2 separate regions of the Homo sapiens genome follow, and region 1 is linked to region 2. The links come from fine-mapping of genetic effects on gene expression. Tissue or cell type: lung. Region 2 holds a variant in brackets; the other region holds the start of a gene. All regions are shown on one strand. Distances are from middle to middle.

Region 1 (2,686 bases), 44 kb before region 2:
CCCGGCCCTCAGTTAACATTTTTTTCTTATTTTTATTTTTTGAGACAGAGTTTTGTCTCTCCCCCAGGTTGGAGTGCAGTGTCACAGTCTTGGCCCACTGCAACCTCCACCTCCCAGGTTCAAGCGATTCTCATGCCTCAGCCTCCCAAGCAGCTGAGACTACAGGCATGTGCCACCACATCTGGCTAAATTTTGTATTTTTAGTAGAGATAGGGTTTTGCCATGTTGGCCAGGCTGGTCTCTAACTCCTGGCCTCAAGTGATCCTCCCGCCTTGGCCTCCCAAAGTTCTGAGATTGCAAGTGTTAGCCACTGTGCCCAGCCCTCAGTTAACATTTTTATCATGAATGCCATTTGGTTTGACTTTGAAGTCAGACCTTGATTAATTCTTCCACCATCATTACCCCTTTGGTATAGGCTGTGAATTCCGGGGCTCTGTTAACCACATCACGTGACTTTAATGGGTCTCTGGTCTTGGCTCAGATTTGGGTCTAAGTTAACCTTCCATTTAAGGCCTCTCTGAAATAACTTTGGAATTGGGTTACTATTGCACCACCAGTGCCCCTCTGATTTGATCTTCAAGCAGGATATTTGTTAATGTTTTCTCCATCCATACACCCTGATAGAGGTCTTGAATCCTAGGACTTTCTTAACTATTGTAACCATCAGAGTTCCCGTTTTGTATCGAACATGAACCTTTGTTAACTCTGCAATCCTGTTCCGGGCTGACTTCCAATCCAGCCCTTTGTTAAGTCGTCTAAAACCAATGTCCCTTAGGTTTTACCTCGAACCTCTGACTCTATGAACTCTTTTAGTTTTGATACGGGCTGCAAAAGGCCATATAAGCCTACTTGAACTAGGGCAGGCAGAAGTCCAGGCTGTAAATGACAGGTGAAGGTGGGCCCTTCCGTGTTCAAAGGAGCCAATGGAGGACCGGTGGGCAGTGAGTGACAGATGGGGGCGGGTCCTGACGCCAAGCAGGAACAATAGGAAGGCGGCAGGGCGCCGAGGCCAGGTGGGGAGAAGTGGGCGGGTATGTGTGAGCCCCCTGAAAGGCTGCATGATGTCAAAGGTCTCTTCCCTTTCTCCAGACGTTTTAGGAATTCGCTTCTGCGGAGGAATCTCCCGGGGGGTGCTCTGTCCAGCCTTCCCACTTTCCCCGTTTCCCACCCTGCCATGTCGCCACGCCTTTGCTCAGGCCGTGCCTCTTCTGGTGGCCGGGAACGCCCACTCACCCGGACAAGTCGCGGCCCTTCCAAGCCTCACACTGCTTTCGTAGGATCAATTCCGAATACCCAAACTCGGAGATATCACGAGGACTCCCCCGGGCCCCCAAACGCACCTCTCCTCTGGCTGGAATGGGAGCCTCCAGAAGCAGTGCGAGACCACGGCCAGCGACAGAGGTCCTGGCGCTGGCGGAATGACGCCATTTTTGTTACTGGTAGAGCTCGGCTTCGTGGCTGTTTCGGAGCCACCGAAAGATAAGCTCCCTCGTCACCCTGACATCTCTCCGGGAAGACTGGAAGGGAAATGGCCTTTCGGGGGATGTTGAACGCATTTGGGCAGGCGGGGAGCCAAGCCCGGCTTGAGAGCAGAGCCGGGGTGAGGGGCCTGGCTGAGTGCTGCGGGTCTATGTGATCAGTGACGGATGGAGACAAGTGGAGGGCCTGAGGAGGGGATTGAGTGACGTGGAGAACAGTGATAGGGGAGCCTGTGGGACCAGGGGTAACAGTATGTGGGTTATGCAAATGGGAGTTTGTGGGGTGATGGGGGATCTGTGCGGTGTTTGATGATGTCTGTAAGGGTGAGTGATGGGGCTTCTATGGGATGGGTGAAGGGAGTCTGGGGTGAGTGATGGGTGGTCTGTAGGGTGAGGGATGCTGATCCGTGGGGTGAGTGGATAGGGGGATCTGGGGTGAGGGATGAGGGTCTATGAGGACAAGAATGGGAGTGTGTGTGGGGTCAGTGTTGACATTCTGTGGGGTCCATGATGGGTGGCTTTTTCAGATCAATCATATGTGCATGAATGAACAAAAATCTCTGCTCCTGTGGTGTCCACATTCCGATGGAGAAGTCCAACTTGGTGGTTTGATTTGTATTTCCCTCATGACCAATAAGTTTGAGCACATTTTCTTATATGGATTCATCACTTGGAGATCTTCTTTTGTGAGGGGCCTGTCTTTTGTTCATTTTTCTGTTGGACTCTCTGCCCTTTTCTTAATGATTTGTAGGAATTTTTTTTTTTTTTTTTTTTTTTAGACGAAGTCTCACTCTGTCGCCCAGGCTGGAGTGCAGTGGAGAAATCATGGTTCACTGCAACCTCCACCTCCTGGGTTCTAGCAATTATCCTACCTCAGCCTCCCGAGTAGCTGGAATTACAGGCGCCTGCCACCACGCCTGGCTGATTTTTTTGTATTTGTAGTAGAGACAGGGTTTCGCCATGTTGGCCAGGCTGGTCCCGAACTCTTGACCTCAGGTGATACACCCACCTCGGCCTCCCAAAGTGCTGGGATTACAGGTGTGAGCCACCGTGCCCGGCCAGGAATTGTTTTTATATATTCTGATACCACTCCTTTAGTAGTGGTATGTGTTTTGCAAATATCTCCTTCCAGCTTTTGGCTTCTCTTTTCATTTTATGGCTTTAAATATGAAGATTTTCAGTTAATTTTGAACTGTAAAGCACATTCT
Region 2 (2,686 bases):
CTAAACAATGGATCAAACTGTCCTGGGTGTGGCTGTGAGTGTGTTTCTGGGTGAGCTTAACCTTTCTCTGGAAGACTAAGTGAAGCTGACCTCCCTCCTAGATGTGGGGGGCCCCACCCAGCCAGTTGAAAGCCTGAGGCAAACAGGACTGCTGACCCTCCGTGAGTCAGAGAGGACTCCTCCTGCCTGAGTGCTGGGGCTGGGACATCAGTTTATTCCCGCCTTGGAGCATGCGCTAAAACGTCAGCTCTTCATTGGCCTCAAGTCTGCTGGCCGTCACACTGGACCTGCACCACCCACTCTCCTGGGTTCCCAGCTTGCCAACTACAGGTCTTGGGATCTGTGGGCCTCTGGGCCCATGTGGGCCAATTCCTTACGATAAATCCCACATATCTCCACATAGACGTAGACATATCGCCTCCTATTGGTTCTGTTGCTCTGCAGAACCCTGACTAATAGATGACCTCTTCCGTGCATCTCAGGGTTCCCGCTCAACTGGGGGCCTGGCTGGTGGTGGTTTATTTGCACTATGAGGGGGCGGCCTTGCCGGTGATGTTCCTTGTGATTTAGGCCAGGTGGGGCATTGTTTTCATAACTGCAGGCAACACTGGGCTGTGAGTTTGTCCTCCATGAGATTCTATTCCATCCAGGGCAGCCATGGCCTGGTGGATTGTTTAGCCTTAGCCATCGCTGACAGAAATCAGGACTTGTACTTGTCAGGTGCTCCCTGAGAAACTACTGTGTGGGCTCAGCACTCCATTCAGCCTCCTCAGACTATAGAGTCCTCATGCCCTGCCATCTGTCACCAGATAATCCCACTGGAATGTGCAGAGCTGATGGAGGACATCTTTGGCCTCAGCTAACGTTTTCCACCGCCATTCTGCCCAGGGGGTTGTGAGGCCTCGTGTAGGGTGGGCAGCTTTCCAAGCCACCAAAATTCACAAAAATGCAAAATCCATACTGACCAGGTGTACATGGACTGCAATGCAAAGCCTCCTGGGAGTCACTCTCAGCTTCTGTACTAACTGTGCAGAATCCTTTAGTAGGGAAGCCACTTTTCCATACCGTCCTGGGGCAGCCAAGTGCTTCACTTCAGCCCCTGTCAGGTGGAGCTTGCTGTGCTCTGTTCGATACATTGTCTGTAGCTTTTTTCTTTTCTTTTCTTTCCTTTTGACGGAGTCTCGCTCTGTCGCCCAGGCTGGAGTGCAGTGGCGTGATCTCGGCTCACTGCAAGCTCCGCCTCCCGGGTTCACGCCATTCTCCTGCCTCAGCCTCCCCGGTAGCTGGGACTATAGGCGCC[T/C]GCCACCACGCCCGGCTAATTTCTTTTTGTATTTTTAGTAGAGACGGGGTTTCATCGTGTTAGCCAGGATGGTCTCGATCTCCTGACCTCATGATCCGCCCGCCTTGGCCTCCCAAAGTGCTGGGATTACAGGCGTGAGCCAGCACGCCCGGCCATCGGTAGCTTTTTCATTTGGTTCCCTGGCTAGGTCCTTACGGACAGGCAGGGGCTCCGGGTGAGACAGAGGGTGTCTCCTCCTCCAAATGAGAAATGGCCTCTCCTTCTTGACCCTCCCCTGTTGTCTCTTCTGTTTTTTTGACTTTGCTGTTGGTGACTGGCAAAGGAGAAGGTCAAGTTCCTCACTCTCTCATGGTGGTATTGTGTCGCGTCATCCTCTAGAGGGCGCCAGTCCTCTTCTCCGGGGTCTTCTACGCCTTCTGGTCTCCTCTGATGAAAGAAGATTATATGACCACAAGGTGGCGTAGCACAATAAGGGTTATTATTATTCTATGCCCCGATCATAGACTAGAGTAGACAGCCAGGCTTAATGTGGCTACTATGAATGAGAGACCTACCCTCTGGGCCGTGTCCTGGCGAGAAGCGCGCAAGCCCAACATGGGTCCCCTGGTTTGGATTCAAGAGGACAGCCACCTCCTTTGGAGTCCTGGTTGGGACAGCAATATAAACGTCTTTAGTCACGTGAAGTAACAGTTTTGCCCCACCTCAACAAATTTGGGGTCTTGATATTGCTCCGGAAAGGAACAGAAATGATGTCATCTGTAATAGCAAATTCAAATGCGACAAGAACAGAGGCATGCTAGCTGTTTACAAAAGCGCCTCCCCCAGCTGTGCTTAGGGGATCCACGTCAGCCCGACATCGCTGCTTTATAGCCATGTTCACGTGTCATATGCGTCTCAGGGTACCCAAAATCACAGGGCCAACTCACGGGGCTCCTACCACTCTAGCCAGTCATGGGGTCAGGATAGCCTACCCTCAGTCCAGAGATGTGTACTCCCCCAACCTTTTGTGTTCAGACCCACAGGCCTTATAGCGCCCTGTGCGTGCCCCAGCATTTCCCTGCCTAGTGGGGCTCCAGGCGGGCAGGGTGACCTCCTTCCCCAGGCAGTTCCACACCTGATCCCAAAAGTCAGTTCTAATGAAGTGGATTCATTCAAATACTGGTGTTACTGCTTGGCCAGGCTAGTGAGGCACAGAGAAAACCCACAAATGTAGAGTATGTGACACAGCACAAAGCAGTCCCATGCCAAACTGATGCAATGGCATTCCAAGTTTAGAGTTCCACCGCTTGAGACCATCCAGGATTCTTTTACCAATTATTTGTCCTACTGTCTCCTATCTATTTCATGATTACCAGAAATCCTTCCCTTTTCCTCTTTGTCACTTAC

Evidence for each region. PIP is the estimated chance that this variant, and not a neighbour inherited with it, causes the effect.
Region 1: ZNF630 starts here. The variant in region 2 is fine-mapped to the expression of ZNF630 in lung (TOPMed, PIP above 0.99).

What each region holds. Positions count from the first base shown.
Region 1 is chrX:48,070,181-48,072,866 of GRCh38, reverse strand. ZNF630 (zinc finger protein 630) reads left to right here and starts at 1,227. Exons shown (of 5, transcript NM_001282201.2): 1 at 1,227-1,600. RefSeq lists a silencer at 889-1,085 and an enhancer at 997-1,256.
Region 2 is chrX:48,025,874-48,028,559 of GRCh38, reverse strand. No RefSeq gene overlaps it. Among named protein-coding and RNA genes, the nearest start is that of SPACA5, 20 kb to the right of the region's middle. The variant T/C (reference allele first, on the strand shown) is at 1,301.